Linked DNA regions of Homo sapiens. The protein of the gene in region 4 purifies or fractionates together with the protein of the main gene of each other region. This does not show direct contact. Each region holds a gene or a part of one and is shown on either strand. Other genes may lie near its edges.

What was found.
Region 1: the proteins of JADE1 (region 4) and HRG purify together in Homo sapiens (affinity purification with mass spectrometry, with the first as the bait; one large-scale study listed by BioGRID). This does not show direct contact.
Region 2: the proteins of JADE1 (region 4) and RIOK2 purify together in Homo sapiens (affinity purification with mass spectrometry; one large-scale study listed by BioGRID and IntAct). This does not show direct contact.
Region 3: the proteins of JADE1 (region 4) and KAT6B purify together in Homo sapiens (affinity purification with mass spectrometry, with the first as the bait; one large-scale study listed by BioGRID). This does not show direct contact.

The regions. Positions count from the first base shown.
Region 1 is NC_000003.12:186,669,011-186,673,536, reverse strand, and holds part of HRG (histidine-rich glycoprotein precursor), read right to left. Parts: coding exon 4,486-4,526; intron 3,600-4,485; coding exon 3,509-3,599; intron 1,915-3,508; coding exon 1,748-1,914; intron 751-1,747; coding exon 670-750; intron 1-669. UniProt on the Homo sapiens protein: Plasma glycoprotein that binds a number of ligands such as heme, heparin, heparan sulfate, thrombospondin, plasminogen, and divalent metal ions. Binds heparin and heparin/glycosaminoglycans in a zinc-dependent manner.
Region 2 is NC_000005.10:97,168,725-97,173,250, forward strand, and holds part of RIOK2 (serine/threonine-protein kinase RIO2), read right to left. Parts: coding exon 4,451-4,526; intron 2,674-4,450; coding exon 2,482-2,673; intron 129-2,481; coding exon 36-128; intron 1-35. UniProt on the Homo sapiens protein: Serine/threonine-protein kinase involved in the final steps of cytoplasmic maturation of the 40S ribosomal subunit. Involved in export of the 40S pre-ribosome particles (pre-40S) from the nucleus to the cytoplasm.
Region 3 is NC_000010.11:75,029,097-75,033,622, reverse strand, and holds the end of KAT6B (histone acetyltransferase KAT6B), read right to left. Parts: coding exon 2,577-4,526; 3' UTR 999-2,576; downstream 1-998. UniProt on the Homo sapiens protein: Histone acetyltransferase which may be involved in both positive and negative regulation of transcription. Required for RUNX2-dependent transcriptional activation. May be involved in cerebral cortex development.
Region 4 is NC_000004.12:128,811,627-128,816,994, reverse strand, and holds part of JADE1 (protein Jade-1), read right to left. Parts: intron 5,311-5,368; exon of another isoform or gene 5,173-5,310; coding exon of another isoform or gene 5,154-5,172; intron 5,152-5,153; exon of another isoform or gene 5,021-5,151; intron 548-5,020; exon of another isoform or gene 532-547; intron 1-531.

The sequences.
Region 1 (4,526 bases), on a different chromosome or scaffold from region 4:
TATTATAAAATCATGTTCTTATGGTTCGCTTATGTTCTCTGTGCCTCAGTTCCCCTATCTGCTAATTTGGGATTAAAAATGGTATCTATCTCATATGGTAGTGTGAGGGTTAATAAGTTATCATAGGCTGGGCATGGTGGCTTGCGCCTGTAACCCCAGCACTTTGATTTGTAATCCCAGCCGAAGTGGGTGGACACCTGAGATAAGGAGTTTGAGACCAACCTGATCAACATGGTGAAACCCCATCTCTACTAAAAATACAAAAATTAGCTGGGCGTGGTGGTGCATGCCTGTAATCCCAGTTACTCCGGAGGCTGAGGCAGGAGAATCGCCTGAACCCGGGAGGCGGAGGTTGCAGTGAGCCGACACTGTGCCATTGCACTCCAACCTGGGCAACAAGAGCGAAACTCCATCTCAAAAACAAAACAAAACAATAAGTTATCTGATGTGTAAATCACTTAGAAGAGTGCCTGGCAGGTACTAAGTGCTTCCCAGATGATACTTTGTATTTCACAGACATTTCTTCCTCCTTCTCCTCCTCCTCATTTTCTCCTTCTCATTCCTCTTCTCCTTCTTCTCCTTCCTCTCCTTCTCCTTCTCCTTCTCCTTCTTCTCTTTCTTTTTTCTCTGTGACTCTAGTCAACGATCACAGACATTTCTTATACTCACATTGGGGTGTCTGGGGAAATGGTGTCTGGGGCAGTTCCGCACAGAGAAGTCCACGAAGTAACCAGTTCCTTCCCCTCCTCTCTAGAACAGATGGGATCAAAATAGTTTCAAGAACAGACAAAGAAAAAGGAAAAAAAAGCAGTAGATAACTACCATTCAATATTTTTTAAGGCAGTATGAGAATTCAAAATCACCAGTATGTGTCATTTTTTAAAATGGTTTCTGCCTTTTAAAAATGTATCACCTAAGTGATAAGGTGAATACCAGTTCACTGAAAAGGTTCAAATAATAAATATATGATAAAGTAGAGTGTGAAAAATCACCTCTCCTGCACTCCAACTTCTTCCCAGAGTTTTCATTCTCATTTATTTGATGTGTTTCCTCTTCGAGTGTTTTCCTAGATGTGTTACACATACACAGGGAGATCTAAGTGTTTCATATAAATGGGTCCATAGTCTAAGTACTGTTCTATAACCTGCATTTTCCTATACCAATATGTTTTCAAACTCCAGTGCGCATGGGTCCAAACATTCTTTGAGCAACTGCATGGTACTCATTTCCTTACTTGTATGCAACACAATCTATTTAACGCTGCATTTTCTGAATGCATAGCAAATGTCAACCAGTTGCTCTACAAGACAGCTCTGGGTGAAAGTACTTGGGTCCTTGTAGAGAGAGCAGGGAACCATCTAACTATAGGCACATTACTGGGTGTGGTGAGGTAATTTCTCTGAACTTCAGTTTTCCATCATAGTACAAGAATGTTAGTATTGGATGATTTGCAATGACACAACCCTCATATGTTCTTGTCTTTCCCTGTTTCCTCTTTAGATTTTCTCCCTACTCTGTCAGATGTCTACTCCCCTACCCATCCTTCAAAAAAAAAAAAAAGTGTTTGAGGAAAGCAATTTTTTTGTATTTTTTAAATACCTGCTGCCTGTCTTTTATGGCCTCAAAAGTGACAAATTAAAAGGCAGCTAGTCAATTGAGGCAGGTGGAGAGGGTATGCCATTCAGTTCCTGCTGCCAGGTTGGAGCCTGGGCCTTCAGACTCCAACCGAACCTTAGTGGAGACTCACCACTCTTGCAACTCTCTCGATTCGGTCCACTCTGAAAGAGGCAAAGTCATCATTCTCCTCTTTGTACTTCTCAAGGGCTTTGTTGGCTTGTTTTCTGTAGCGCTCAGTATCCTCAAAGAAATCTATGAGGACCGGACTATCTTTGGTATTGGCCAGTGCTGAAGAGACTGGAGAAAGAAGATAGCAGTGTCACAGTAAAGGGCTGGAAATGTTAATGGTGGCTTGGTGGCAAGAATGACAATAACTTTCATTTTAAGGATGGGCAAATTGAGGGTGGGAAGAGCTGAGTAACTGCTTCAAGATCAATCAGCCATTTGGCAACCGAACTAAACTGCTGATTCTTCCTTCGAGTCTTTCTGATCCCCATGTCTATGTTGTGACCCCTACTCATGATGCCTTCACCAGTACCACTGATAAAGTGCTAACATATATATATAAATATGACAACTATGACATTCGTTAATATATAAATATATATTATCTATTATATAATATCTATTATATATTTATATATTATATAATATATCATATGTTTTTATATTATATAATCATATATTTAGGTATTAATATGATATATATATTAACATATATATTAAATAATAGAGATGGGGTTGAGTCACATTGCCCAGGCTAGTCTCAAACTCCTGGGCTCAAGCAACCCTCTGGCCTCAACCTCCCAAAGTGCTGGGATTATAGATGTGAGCCACCGCACCAGGCCACTAATATTTTAATAAGTTCTTCCTGTTGTTGCCAAGGGGGAAGACAGAGCATTAACATAGAGTTTTGCCCAGAGAGAGGAGAAGATACAGATCATCCTTTCTTCAATGCAAACTCCTGTGGCAGTATCTTGCATTTTTGTATATAATATCATATTTGGATTTGCTATTTTAAAAAGGAATCCTGTGATAATTCTATTTGAAAATGTAAATTAAAAGGGTATGGAGGCTGGGCGTGGTGGCTCACACCTGTAATCCCAGCACTTTGGGAGGTCAAGGTGGGCAGATCACCTGAGGTCAAGAGTTTGAGGCCAGCCTGACCAACATGGAGAAACTCCATCTCTACTAAAAATACAAAATTTGTTGGATGTGGTGGCATATGCCTGTAATCCTAGCTACTTGGGAGGCTGAGACAGGAGAATTGCTTGAACCCGGGAGGTGGAGGTTGCAGTGACCCGAGATCACACTATTGCACTCCAGCCTGGGTAGCAAGAGCGACACTCTGTCTCAAAAATAAAAATAAATAAATAAAAAAGCTGTGGAATTTAGAGTTAATACTCCTGGGATTGTGTCACATCTTCACAATATCTTGGCTTTGTTCTTGAGGCCAAGTCATTTAACTTCTTTGAGCATCAATTATTTTGTCTTAAATAGAAAGTGTCATAACCTTTACTTCATAGTCCCAAGACTTTACTTCCTCCCAAGACTATACAACTGGCAGATGATGACTCAAGCTAAAGCAAGCCTGACTCCAAAGCCTATATCTATAATGAGGCTAACCTACCTCTCCTAAATCTCTATTTTTATGTGTTGAATTTCTTTAAAAGAAGGTGTACCAGTACCAGGGAAATTTGTCTCAATTCTATTCTCTGGAGAATGAATAATAATGGAGTCTATGAAGGCTTTTCTTTCATGTACATCATAGATATACATGAATACATCTGAATATATATGAATACATATGTACATAGATGAGACAAATACCACTGTATGATTGAATTTGTATTAATCAAGAATTAATTAGCAATTTAACAGATTACCATACCAGAACTTGTGGTGCAGTTAAAGTCAATCACTCTGAGGTCCTGAGATTCATGGGAATGTCTTGTAGCTATTACCTTACATTGTCCGATCACCTGTAAGAAAGAGGCTCTTGAGGACTTGCTGAGTCATTGCATCCTGCCTTCCTCAGGTCAGATATGAAAGAGCAAAAAGGTGATGCAACATCCTCCTACTGTTCATTTAAAAATGCATTTCTTTCATCAAAGCTTGTCTCAAACCCTGCATTTTCTTAGTCAGTTTCTGTGTGCTGCATCCTGTTGGCACTCAAAATCCTCAGGAGAACCAGCGAGAAACTATTTAAAGCATCATGGCCATACCCCAAACATTTTCAAGGGAAAAAGTGGTGAAAGTTCCAGGAGTGTGAACCTCTCATTTTCTGGAAATGAAATCTTGAATCTCTGCTTATTCATCTTCATGTTCTCCACCTGTGTCAGAGAGCCTGGCATGTCAATACCCACCTCCCACATGCAAAGCCAGATCTTATTCCTCAGTGTATATCCTAGGTGCTGAGCAAGACCCAATTCCTCACTGCAAGTAATTACTTTGGCCATTCCTGAAAATAGGACCATTGTTCATAGGACACAATTACAAGTTCATAGATTCTGATACCTGTAGACTGTCAAGAGTGGAAGGCCCTTAGAGTCCATGAATTCCTAAACCCACTTCTTATTTTACAGTCAAAAAACACCAAAGTGGAGGGATGTTATTAGATGATTTACCCAAGGACCCACAGCTGGTTATGCTCTTTGATGGGACCACACACCCTGCTGAGTTGTCTTGAACTGGGTTCCCAGGAAAGACTCTCAAGAGTATTGCTCAAGGTTAACATCATCTTCATGAATCTCAAGGCAAAAGCTGCCCTTTCTCTTCTACTGTGTTAGCCCAGGCATTGGCTGAGTGAACAGAGTAGATGGAAAATAAGAATGAAAAGAGCAGAGTGAAGGTGCCCTCTTTACTTACTATTTCAGATGGACGTCTGGAATCAGGTGGCTCACAGTCAT
Region 2 (4,526 bases), on a different chromosome or scaffold from region 4:
CTGTTCTATTATGTAAAGCAATGGGGAGTACAAACCTGATATCCTTAAAAGTTGGAAAAAGCTCACTTTCGTAGCTGAAACGTTTCATAAAGAAATCTTTAATGCATTTAACATCTCTGTCAAAATACCTGCAAAAGCAAGAATCATTTATGATATAGTCTTTATTGCTCCTCTTTTTCCTTATTAGCCAATGACAATATACTTATTGGTTAATGGTATTGCTCCTCCTTACACAAGGAGATAAAAGATGTTACACAAAAGAAAAAAGATACAAATGAGTTAACCAGTGTGTTTGAAAAACTAAAATCCAAGGAAATCTCAAGGATATAAGCTGTCAATGCCATGCAGTTCCTACGGTTAGGAAAGTCAAGGTTTTGTCATAGTTACTGGTATATAGTTAGATACACTAGGGAAAGATGAATGTGAACCCCAGGAAATAAGATAATGGGCCTATGGTTTGGGGATAGGTTTCCACTTATTCTGTTCGTCCTGAGTCTGGCTATGCTTCTTATCAGCAACACTCACTAGAACCCCTAGCCAACTGAAAGATCTGACGATAAAAAGATATTAATATTAAACAGTTAAGTTTGGAGACTACTGAATTATGTTTATGTATCTTTGTTATCCATTAGCCGATTTGCAATAACACCCAAAGGGATAAATAATGCTACAGCCTATAAAAATAATCTGAGGACATGTTAATCTGGACCAAAAGTAGAACAATATCTGAATATCAGGCTGCCTTTTTGGGCCACCACAAAGCAGCAAAAATGGATTCAATTCTCTAGAAGATTTCCAGACAAGGGAGAATTAAGGACAGGATAATGTGCAATTGACTCTCTTTGAGAAAGATGAAGTTTGGAAATAGGAAGATAATGCCTCTCCTCTTTGCTCACAGGGTACTCTGGGAAAAATACTAATACATTTTAAAAAGACTATTTTATATATGTTTACATCTCCCTACGAGACAGTAACATTTTCTAAAGCATATATAGGGGTTATTTATATCTCAATCTCTAGCAATTAGCACAGCTCCTTGGCCCCAGAACTGGTTCATAAAAATTGAAATTAAATCACAATGTCTCTCCATAGAACGATGCAGCCTAAACCTAGAATGTCATAATCTGTCACACTCTGGAGGCTCCTAGATGTTCCTTTACTGTGTGACTATGTTACTCCTTATTAATAAAAATCATGATTAGTCATCATCCAAAGAGTACTGACCACCCCAGTGCCAGGCATTAATCTTTTAGTATTATTTTGTTGAAAACGTTTTAAAAATTTATTTTCAAATGACATTTCTTTCTGTAGCATAAGTATAGACATTTTCTACTGGAAACCAGGATGAAGAGACGCTTCACTTAACAAAACTACTTCAAGCTCAATCTCTGGAAGAATTAATATACTCTATTATATAAGTGATACTAGTTGTTAGTTTAGGAAAAAAGTTTCTCATAAAGCTTGGAACAGAAAGAAAAAAAAATCCTTAGTTACACTCAATTGAATCATAAACCTCAAGCAAATAAAGGATAAGGTCCTGTTTCATGACTTGGCTGGCTTGGTTTAAATAAGTAATGTGAAGAATATGATTATCGCAGTATATCATGATTCTGCACTGTGTCAGAGATAAAGTTTTATGTGATTTTTTTTCTAATAAATAAAGCTAAAAGTGACAAGAGGTAATTATCACTGGTTTGACAACTGAGTCCAGTCCAAAACCACAACTTTTATTCAGATCATCGAGATTACTGAGTTATACTTGGTGAATCTCTCTTGGAGGCAATCATGGAACAGCAAGAAAAAGGGAAAGACAAAAGTGGTTCTAGAGTTCCCCACTACACTCCCTACTTTTACCTGTTTTAACAATTGGTCTTCCATCTAAAAGTCTGTTTGAACAAAGGGTTCCATGGCTAAGAAAATTTGACTTTTGAACGTCTGTCAATTTACAACAGAGAAATTCAAATTCTTATGGGGAAAACTCTAGTAGTTATACTTTAATAAAAAACCAAATTTTTATAACGTTAACACTAGCCACTTCAAACCAGTGACTGACCTAAATAATAGTATCACAAAATTGAAAAATTATGAAAAAATGATTATATTCTAAACAAACACACCCACATCCAGAATCAATAATAGCATGTAAGGGCCGGGCGCAATGGCTCACCCCTGTAATCCCAGCACTTTGGGAGGCCGAGGCGGGTGGATCACCTGAGGTCAGGAGTTCAAGACCAGCCTGACCAACATGGAGAAACCCCATCTCTACTAAAAAAAAAAATACAAAAAATTAGCCAGGTGTGGTGGCACATGTCTGTTATCCCAGCTCCTCGGGAGGCTGAGGCAGGAGCATTGCTTGAACCCGGGAGGTGGAAGTTGCAGTGAGCCGAGATCGCGCCATTGCACTCCAGCTTGGGCAACAAGCAAAACTCCGTCTCCAAAAAAATAAAATAAAATAAAAATAAAAAAATAGCAAGTACGTACCACTCAGCATTGGGATGAGAAGTTGAAACCATCTGTGGAAAATCAATCATGGTGATATGGTCACTTTCATCCAAAATGAGATTAAATTCATTAAAATCTCCATGAATCAGCCCATGATTTGCAAGTTTGACAATTAGTTCCATAGCTTCATCATATACTGATGCAGGATCTTCAACATGGTGTATCTGACATCTGAAAGTATTTTAAGCATGAAAATAGGTTACTTGTGTTCATTTACGGTTTTAACGAAAGTATGTATGCATGTGAACATATATATTATTTCCATGCTGTGTATCCCCAGCAGCTTTCTTCTCATTCCCATCAGCACACAGATATAATATCTCCCATCTATTAAAAAAATAGCCACACTGCTTCAATTCTGTATCTCTTTTCTACTACTACCTTTCTTTGATCTTTACAGCCAAACTTGTCTACATGTGCTTTTCCAATTTGTTTCCTCCTACTCTCTCATACCATTTCAAACAGGCTTTTTATAACGTTAACACTAGCCACTTCAAACCAGTGAGTGACCTAAATAATAGTATCACAAAATTGAAAAATTATGAAAAAATGATTATATTCTAAACAAACACACCCACATCCAGAATCAATAATAGCATGTACGGGCCAGGCGCAATGGCTCACCCCTGTAATCCTAGCACTTTGGGAGGCCAAAGTGCTTCCAAGATCACCCTTGTTGAGACTACAATGACTTCAATGTTGCTAAATCCAAAGGTCAATTCTTAGTCCTCATCATATGTGGTCTGTCAGTTGACCTCTTTGAACATTTTCTTCACTTAACTCTTGGGACACCATTCTCTCCAGGTGTTCTTCCTTCCTCACAGATCATACCTTCTTAGTCTTTTCTATTTGTACTTCATCTTTTTCCTTGACCTCTAAATTCTGGAGTTCCTCAAAGGTCAATCCTATGACCTTTTATTTTCTCTTATTTAGACTCATTCTTGGTGATCTCATCTAGGTTAATGGTTTAAATACCACATATACACTGATTTTAATGTAGACTTCTCTAACTCCCAGGCATCTCAAACTTAGCATGTCCAAAATGGAATCTCTGATTCTGTCCCACCCTCCAACTCCAAAATGCTGTTCCTGTAGCTTTCCTGTTTCTATACATGGTAGATTTCTCCTTCCAGTTAATTTGCTACTCAGGGGAAAAACCTTGGTGTCACCATTGACTCATCCCTTCCTTCACATCCATATCCAATCTCAAATCATGTTGGTTCAACCTGCAGAACACATTCAGAATCTGACCACTTTTCATCACCTTCACAACTATCACTGTAATCAGAATTACAACCATTTCTTGCCTAGATTATTGTAATAGCCTCTTAACTTGTCTTCCTAATTCTTTGTCTCCCCAGAGTCTATTAATTCAGCAAGCAGAGTGACCCTCTGAAAACACTGAGATCACTGATTGATGAGATCACATCTCTTCTCTGCTCAAAATACTCCCACTCCAATAGCTGCTAATCTGAATCAAAATTTGATGAGGTTTCACCTTATTAGTGAGACTTTTCTTGACCACCCTACATAAAACAGTAGTCTCCTGTCCCGTTAGTACTTCCTATCTCCCTTACTCTGCTTTTTTTTATCCATAGTACTTACTAACAATTGATATACATTTCCTTTAGTTATTTATTGCACATCTCCTTCCATCAGAATGTAAATTCCATGAGGGCAGGGACTTTGTTTTGTTCACTGCTGAGATTAAAAGTTCCTGGCACCTAACAGTCTCTTAATATTGAATGAATGAATGAATCACAGAGATTACAAAGTTCATATTGTCAGAATGAAACTGGGTTTTTAATTTGTCTTTGAGTCTATTCCTTTAAATAAATTTTAACCTCCCAGAGGCAATATTTCATTAACTAAAAAAAATTTTATTAAAAACCCTGAAACTTAAATTCATTTATCAGGATTCATGGCTTTAAGAATAATGAATACTTACAGTGGATAACCATTTATGAGTTCCATGACCACTGCATGACGATTGTAATCAATTGGCTTTGGAACTGGAAATTTCC
Region 3 (4,526 bases), on a different chromosome or scaffold from region 4:
GGCCCCAACCCCACCTCCAGGGCTCGGGCAGCCTCTTGCCCGATGTGTGGCCCACTGGGCTGCCCAGTCCTTGGCCACTCCTGAATGGACGCAGTGTTCGATTTGTGCAGGCATAGACCACCACTTCCTACTCTGAGGATGGCTGATAGGTTTCTTTTCCTATTAGCACAGCAGCTTAAATGGATCTTTTCCCTTTGTGCTGACGGCCCTTCAGACGTGTCTTCTTGAAAGCCCTCCCTCAGCTGTTACATATATTACCCCCATTGACTTTGCAGTTGAGGAAGGAAGGGACTAAAAGATAAAATTGTGACACTAAACCCAATACACTTTGTAACTGTGAAAGAAAATAACGATAAGGGTGAGAGTACAAGGCAGAACTCCACTGGGCACCCTCTGTCTGCACAAGGCCTTTTATTCTGGTGTGTACGCTCTATCCTGCCCTTGCACGATTTTGGGTCCACTTTAAGGCTTATGTCTATGCTTTGTAAAACATCTAATTTTTGTGTGTGTGTGTTGAATCAACAGTGCAAAAGCAACTTTTTTCCTCCACAGGGTAGTGACCTGCTTAACAGAGGAGTTGCGAGCACACGTGTTCAGACACCTGGAGAGCTTAACGGGCTAGTTTCACACGGGTGCTAGGTCAAGCATTCATTTCTAGACTTGTTGCTCAAATAACCAAATTCAAGCAACACTCAGAACTTTCTCTGAACGCTATACTTGTGAATATTCACTTTTGGCAGGGGGTCTAAACTTTAGACTCTAAAGAAAACATACAATTAATCATTCACAACAGAGCAAAACGTTCACACTTTTTAAAAAGAAAATGATTTTTCAAACATACAATCCCAAATTGGGTGCTTTTTTTGGTATGAATCTTTATAAAAAGGAAGTTTGCTACCCTGGTGCGAGGCTTGGAGGGATGTTTCTACAGACTGTGCGAGTGAGGCAGCTGGATATTTGTGCGGGATCTCTTTGCAAATGAAGATCAAAGTCCAAAAGAAAAAAACAATTTCACTTTATTTTAAAGACAATGATTGGCATACAGAAGGTATGCACTCGCATAAAATAAACTTTCATGAAAAGCATTAAAATCCATTATAAATTAATTTATTAAATAGGTATTTGGTATATGTGATGGTTTTATTAGATATTACTCTTATTTATTGCCAACCCCTCCCCCAAAGTCAAAACAAATCAGAAAATCCCATAACTCCAATTTACACTAAATAATTTATTTTCCCAAAATGTGTATGTGTTCTGAGGCGTGACACATGATACAGTTCCATTGGTCATTCTCTATCAATCATAATATGACAGGACACAAGAGGCTAAAAATGGCTCATCATAATTTATTTTATGTTAAAATGTACAGCTTTTTTTTGTTTGTTTTTTGTTTTTTTGAAGTGACTGACTAAAAAGAGAACAGATAAATACAAGAGTGTCGCTGGATCCTATTTTATACAAGGATTACGCCTCTCCTGCTTGGCCCTTACTGTCACCCTGTACAGGTACAAAGGCTACAAAAAAGGAAGCAATATAAACAGACACAAATAACTTTTTTGCTTTTTTACATGCGATTTGTAAGCTTAGTTTGAGCTATTCACAAGCTACTTTTCTATTTTTCCTTAAAAAATAACTCCAATATTTTATAAAGATAGAAAAATCTACAGATGGAATGAAAATGTAAAGTTAGAGGCATTTCCATAAAATAGCAACTTTACACCAAATTCACTATTTTTTTTTAAATCCTGCCAAGTATTTGGACATATATGAAATGTTTCAAAACCTGACAGATAAACACTGAGATATGCTTCATTCAATAAACAGAAGTCTGCATTTATAAAACAGAAAGCTGCCTTTTTTCCCCAAAGAAATCTGTCACCAAAATGGAAAAGGGTCTCAACTTTACACCAAACATTTAGCAATAAAACCCTTTTGACTAACCAAATGGGAATAGCTTTTATAGCTCTTTACAGTTTTATAATTAACAAAAATATAGTTTTTTTTAAAACCCTCAAATTAGGGCACCCTAATCAAGGCAAAAAACTTAAGAAATGGCTTACTGTTAGCACAACACTTGTACAGTACTACAAAATGCACTGTCACTAACAAAGACATTAGCGGCATGCTGAAGTGTCACCTTAAACAAAATATACAATAACTGAAATGCTAAAGGCATTTACATGGAGTGGACAGGGAAGGGAAAAAAAAAGCTCTAGGTTCAATATTAAAACAGATAATTTGGGGGGGCTTGATATCCACATTGTTTAACAGAAGCAGGCACAACAAGTGGCTGCCTCCAAATTGTAGTCCAAAGAGAGGCCTTCCTTTGCAGAGAATTTTATATAAAAGTAACAGAAATGAAGGTACCAAAAAAAAGAAAAAGGAAAAAAAGAAAAACAACTTGTATAAGGCTTTCTGCTGCATACAGCTTTTTTTTTTTTTAAATAAATGGTGCCAACAAATGTTTTTGCATTCACACCAATTGCTGGTTTTGAAATCGTACTCTTCAAAGGTATTTGTGCAGATCAATCCAATAGTGATGCCCCGTAGGTTTTGTGGACTGCCCACGTTGTCTACCTTCTCATGTAGGAGCCATTGAGAGACTGTTTGGACATGCCTGTGTTCATGTAGCCGTGATGTCCGGGGGCCGTGTACATCATGTTACCGTGGGGTGGGGTCTGCATTGGCTGCTGGGCATATGGCTGGGTGCCCATCATGCCCATCTGCATCTGCATAGGGTATTGGGGCGTTTGATTCATATAGCCATGATTGCTGTGGTAGCCACTGTTCATCATTGGCTGGGACATGCTGTACCCATTCATGGCGTTGAGAGTGTTCATGTTCATGTTCACAGAGTTGACATTGTAGGCTGGCGCTGGCATCAGGTTCACACTCATGTTCATGCCTCTTTGCATCGTTAAAGTCCGTGCAGGACCCTGCATGGCTACAGTCTGGGAGCGCCCATAGATTTGTGACTGATGGGTGGCAGCGGCTGGTGACAGAGACGCTGACTTGGTTCTCATGGAGATGTGGCCCTTGCTGGCAATCTGGGTTTGCAGTCTTTGGCTGTGAGAGATGCCAATATTTGATGCAGCCATGTTCCGTTGCAAAAGAGGCGGCGGCAGATTCATTGGAGGAGGAGTCAGGTTGGGGGGTGGGGTCATGGTAGCTTGTGCTTGGGGTCCCCCAGGGACGGAGTGTGGAGACTGAGAAAGTTGAACAAGCCCTGTGTTACTTAATGGTGTGGACAAAGAGGCACTGTTTGCATAGGAAGTCACAGCAGCGGAATGGCTGTAAGGCAATGAATGATCAATAAGTGTATTAGTTAACTGCTGCAGTTTGGCAAGGCTGAAGGTGGCTGACGGCTGCGGGTAATGCCCAGCCCCAAAATCACTCTGACCCATTCGCTCGTATAAGCCAATGTTGGCGTTGCTCGTCTCGGGGATTTCAGCCAGCTGCATGGGTGGGGTGAAGTTAGCAGCCATGCTGCACTGAGCCAGCTGCTGGCTGCTGCTCGGAGGCCTCTCCACCACACAGCCTTGAGGAGACTTGACGCTGCAGGTCGGAGGGGAGCTGATGCTGGTTTGCTGCAGCATGCTGCAGCTCCCGCTGATGTTGGACATCTGCTGGGTGACAGCACAGCTGCTCTGTGTCAGACTGCTGGAGGTGAGGTTGCTATAGGAGCAGCTGTTCTGTGAAGAGCCGTTTCCACAGATGCTGCCTCCCATAGTAGAATCGTAGCTGCTTGGGTTTTCGTAGTTCTCAGTTGTGCTCTCGATACTGCCCAGGTCACTAAATCCACTGTCTACGACTTGCTGTGAATGATCTGAAACTGATGGGACATCCATCATGGGACTGGTTTCCATGTTCTGCAGAGATGGCACTGAGATGGCACTTTGATCTGGGCTGATTTGGGCGTAGCTGTTTTCCAGAGCAGGGACACTTGGGCTGTTGACAGAACGTACGGACTGGCCAGGATGGGAGTGGACGGATGAAACTGGGCTACTGTGGTCCGACTGTTGGCAATCGTCGAGCGTGGTGGCAATCTGTGGACTTTGGTCTGCACGGGTGTAGTTCTGTAGGCTTCTACAGGCCTCTTGAGTCTCGGCACAATCCTGAAAGGTGTCGTCCTGTTCGCTGCTCTCCTGGGTCAAAGACTGAACGGCCTGGACAGTCTCAGAGTCGATTTCCATGGTTGCTGGGTTTCCCTCTTTGAACTCTGTATCGACTTCCTTGCTGTTCTTTTGGTCCTGCTTCTGTGCCTGTTCTCCTGGGGGTGGCTCCTCGTCAGATTCGGGTACAGCTTCAGGGTCCCCAGCAAGCTCCTTGGGCTCACTGTTACAAGAAGCTGTCAGGTCGACGCCACAGTCCATTAAGACCTCTGGGTTCGAGTGACCAGGCTGCACATTAAGGTCTAAAAAAGTCTCCTGGTTTTCCAGTACTTCTTTGAAGCTTTCTCTGGGCAGCTCTTCCTTCTCCACTTCGGCAGACTCCATGTGGCTGTCATCCTCGTCATCGGCATC
Region 4 (5,368 bases):
CCCAGCTACTCCGGAGGCTGACTCACTTGAACCCACTGCAGTGAGCCGAGATCCCACCACTGCACTCCACCCTGGGTGACAGAGCAAGAACTTGTCTCAAAAAAAAAAAAAGAGAGAGAAAATGTAGTTTACTTCCCTCAACAAGTAAGCCCAAAAAAATCTAAGGTTTTAAAAATTAACTTTCTTCAACTGCTCTCTATCACATTATGTCCTACCTCTACCTGAAGAACTAAAGGCAAAAAGTAAATACTGAATTCGTTTTAGAGTAACCAAAATTTGGTCACTGAACATTTACTGTGTGCACATCGTACACTATGGGTCTAAGGGATTAAACGTAAAAATACATGGCCCCTTTCCTAGTGATAAAGGCTTTCCAGTCCAAGTCTGGTAATCTTTATGTTTGTGCTTTGAGGTGAGGAAAGGATCCTTAATAATCATTCAAGTCCTGGGCTAGGAAAGGCCCCATCATAGCCAAAGTTTTTAGCATCAATTTCTTCCATTCTATTCCATGACACCCAACCTTAAACTTACAAATTGTCACTTCTATGTGTAATTAAAAAGGCCCTCCAAGGTCATTTTCTTGCATTTATTAGGAGAGCAGAGTAACTTGCTTCATCAGGGCTATGAACTGCAAAAAAAGAAAAAATAAAAATAATGCATACACCCTCATGATCACAAACCAAAGTTTTCATATGAGAAATACACTAGGCAAAGGACAATAGACTCAATAGACTCAACTAAATCTCAACTTCTGAGATATTACATTCCACAAACATAAAAAGAATTGTCCAGATTGTAAATACATGGTCATATAAAGTGCTGCAAGGACTTGAAAACGGAGAAAACAGATTTAAGACTTTTAAGGAAACAACTTACCTGTCTCAGGAATTAAAATACTTTCCTAATTTAAGATTGCTGATACCTTCTAAGAAACCAGAAACTCCAAGCAAACCCACCCTTCATGTTTAAAAAAAAAAAAAAAGTATTGTTGAATATGGTGCCAATTCTCTAAAGGCTTGTACAAGGGAGGAAATAAGTTTAAACGTGACGTAACTTTCACCGTTTTAACAATCAAGCTAAACCTCTTAATGCCAACCCAAATAAAAAGCAAGGTGTGTTCGCTAATATGTCATATTTCCCTCTATAACTGTTTTATAAACCTCACAGGAAAACCAGTTTTATAATGCAAATTCTGACAGACCATTAACTGTAATGCTGTAACAGGTGCCCCATAATACTAAATGACAGGGAAGAGCTTCACAAACAAGAAAGTAAAGCAGCAAGCAGAACTGTGACAGATTCCTATGCCTCCTCTTCTCTGACCAAACCCTAAAGAGACAGGATGTAATCTGTATTTGATATCTTGATGTTTACTGTTCCAACCACCTCAGTACTGAAACACAAACATCTGATAAATCTTTTTCCAACAAGTCTGTGGAAAGTAACATCAAGCAAGCAGATGATCTCCAAATTTAAGATTTCCAAATTACAATAAATACCATTTGGATTTCCTGCTTTTTTAAAATCCAGGCAACTTTATTTCCAAAGGCTTGCCTCCTCAGTGTCAGATATTCTGTCAAAAAGTTACTTAAGATTGCCGGGCACGGTGGCTCACGCCTGTAACCCCAGAACTTTGGGAGGCTGAGGCGGGCGGATCACGAGGTCAGGAGATCGAGACCATCCTGGCTAACACGGTGAAACCCCGTCTTAATAAAAATACAAAAAAATTAGCTGGGCATGGTGGCGGGTGCCTGTAGTCCCAGCTACTCTGGAGGCTGAGGCAGGAGAATGGCGTGAACCCGCGAGGCGGAGCTTACAGGGAGGCGGAGCTTACAGGGAGGCGGAGCTTACAGGGAGGCGGAGCTTACAGGGAGCCGAGATCGCACCCCTGCACTCCAGCCTGGGTGACAGAGCAAGCCTCCGTCTCAAAAAAAAAAAAAAAAAGTTACTTAAGATTAAAATCGACTTAAGGGAAACAACCAAATGCAATAAATGGTCCTTTATTAGGCAGTGGTTTAGACAAAGCTTCTCTATTACAGTCTGGGGCTAAATGGGGAAATCTGGACATGTTACAGTAATAGATTATATTAAAACTAACCAAGCTAGCTGACAGAAAAAAAAAAGGTCCTCAGAGCTGGGTGCGGTGGCTCACGCCTGTAATCCCAGCACTTTGGGAGGCCGAGGCAGGTGGATCACCTGAGGTCAGGAGTTCAAGACCAGCCTGACAAACATGGTGAAAACCCGTCTCTACTAAAAATACAAAAAATTAGCTGGGCGTGGTGGCGGGAGCCTGTAATCCCAGCTACTCAGGAGGCTGAGGCAGGAGAATCGCTTGAACCTGGGAGGCATAGGTTGCAGTGAGATCCCACCATTGCACTCCAGCCTGGGCAACATGAGCAAAACTTCATCTCAAAAAAAAAAAAAAAAGAAAAAATCCTTACAGATGGTATATTCATGTATCTCATTTTTATTAAAACACACATGCACATGCATAGAAAATTATCTGAAAAGTAATACAGTAGTCATCTATGGATGGTAGCAATTTGTTTTTATATTTGTTTCCTTGTATTTTCTAATTTTCAAAAACGTACATGTAACACTACTTGTGTAATAACTTTTTAACAGCTAAAGTCAAAAATTAATATCGGTCACGTGCCTACTATACGTAAGACGCAATGGAAATCTGCTTTTACTCTCACCTAGTCCTCCAAGTTTGTTTTTTAGGTCATCTTTCTTCTCCAACCCCCTAGGCTAAGCAACAAAACACATTTCCTCAAACTCCAATAGGTTTTCTCCCTCTAGTTTCACCCAGACACACATACTTTTCATTGCTGTCCCTGTATAGCTACTCTTTCAACCTGGATAACTAATATAAGCACAGCACTGGTTTACAGGCAGAAAACCAGTCAAGTGAAGCGGGGAGAACTAAGAAGGTGGGTTTTTTTTTTTTCTTTTAAATGAACACATATCTACCTTTGTTAAAGCTAAAATATATGTGCAGCCAACCCAACTTTTACTAGTAAGCAGTCTGTACTCTTAAAGGTGGAATCAAGTTCAAGTTCTACCTTACTTTCAGACACTCCCATTATCTCTGCTAAATAGGGACCAAAGGAAATAGCAGGAAACCTAACACTTAAACAGCTTAAAATTATATTTATTCTACACATTAAAATGACAATGCCAAGTAAAAGACACTTATAGAAGTATCCAAACTTTGAAGAAGACAGCAAAATACCAAGCAGAAAGTCATCTGATTTACAAGTGACCGTAAGCAGGCTGGGCGTGGTGGCTCACGCCTGTAATCCCAGCACTTTGAGAGGCCGGGGCGGGCGGATCACGAGGTCAGGAGTTCGAGACCAGCCTGGCTAATATGGTGAAACCCCGTCTCTACTAAAAATACAAAAAAAAATTAGCCAGCCGTGGTGGCACGCGCCTGTAGTCCCAGCTACTCAGGGGGCTGAGGCAGGAGAATCGCTTGAACCCAGGAGGCGGAGGTTGCAGTGAGCTAAGATCATGCCACTGCACTCCAGCCTGGGTGACAGAGCGAAAGACTCTGTCTCAAGGAACAAAAAAAAAAAAAAAAAAAAGTGACCGTAAGTAAATGAGACTAAGATCTTTGGGATAAAAGGACAATAAAAATTCTGGGTTGCATGTACTTGCTAAGAGTGTTACTCACAAAACATCCCATTTAACTCCCCCCACGTATGTTGCCCACCTACAACAAATTATTACATCAAAAGTGTTGACTCAATGCAAGTATGGACATATTGAATGCTTCCTTTCTCCACCTTTCTCCACCTGTGATTAAATCTTGATCAGTTGTGATATGATCAAAATGCAACTTACTATAAAATCTGTAACCACTGGGGAGTCACTACCTAAATCAGCTTTCAGGGAAATAATTTCCCTCTATCTTAAAACTAGTTCATTAGCTTTGAAAGGTATTAGCCTTGAGCTACAAGTAGCAAGAGAGCTAGCCTTCATGGCGGGTATTATAAAAAGGAAAAATAGTTCACCTAATAAAAAACCTTTGGGAAAGAACCCCCTAAGCATTCCCATTAATGGAAACCTCAGATCCTCTCCTACTTTCCTAAAAACGTAGCTGTCTCAGGTCATTCACTGCAGCTGTCATTTTACAAAAGAAAATTTAAATTCCCTCTTGGCCGGGGCAAATAGAGGGCGACAGCCCCTCGCCCCTGCCGAAGTAAGGCAGGGCGCCAGCCCTCTCGTTACTAGAAGGCAAGCTAAAGCTCCTTTTAAACGGTCTCCGGATGACGACGCATTCCTAACGGGTTTCGAAGGCATGTTTAAATCGCCCGCTTTTTTGTTTGCTCTCAGCATTCACCGGCGCCGGGACTGCGGCCGCCCCCACCCGCTTGGGGTGGGAAACCTGGGGCCAGCGGAGCCTGGCGCGGGAGGAATCCTGGGGCGAGGGGAGACCCGGGACGCGCCAAGCCGGGGTTGAGGACTCGAGAATAAGGAGCTCTAGTGGGAGGGTGGCGGAGTGAGAGGGGACGTGAGAAGGCTAAGGATCCCAGCAAGGGGGGCACCCCGGGGTTGTGGGGGAGCTCGGCCGCCGCCCCGCAGCGGCGAACGCTCCGCGCGGCTCCCGCCGCCCGCCGGGGAATGCGCAGGGCCGCGGTTCCGCGCGGCGCCGACCCCTCCCTCTCTCCCAATCCTCCTCCTCCTCCTCCTCCCGAGGCGACAGAAACAACAGCGCGGGAGGAGGGGAAAGTAACTCCCGGCACCTCCGCCGGAATTAGCCCCGGTGCAGTGATGACACCTTCTCGTGGCGCAACCAAGCCCCGCTCCCTCCGCAGCGGCGTCCCCGCCGCCGCCGCCCTCTCCATTTGAAAGTGGCCACCCCCCGCCGCGGCAGCTCCTCCCGCCCCGCCGCCGCCAGCTGCACCAATCCGCTCGGCCCCAGTTGCAAATCAAACGCTCCCTCGCGTCCAGAAGCCACTTGCGCCGCTGGAAACGGCCGCGCCGTCCCCCTCCCCGAGTCCCTCCGGGGCGGCACCTTCGGGCTGGGGCGGGCGCGCCGGCGAGAAACGGTTTTAAGATGGGAGCGGCAGCGGCGGCGAGGAGCTCCGAGCGGGCTCGGCTCCCGCTCCCGCTCCCGCCCCCAGACAGTTCTGGAAACTGTGTATCACCTCTGTCACAGGAAGCCATCCGGCGAGGAAGGCGGCGCGGAACCAACAAACAAACGCCTGCGGCCGCCCGCCGGAACCGGCGCGGGGACCGCGTCGGGCTTCGGGCCGTTCCCGGGGCGGGGGCGCAGCGGCCACCCCCGCGCCGCGGGCTTTGTGCGGGGCGGGCGCGGCGGGCCGGGCGTCCCCGCCCCCGCAACCCCCCACCCCGGCCCGGG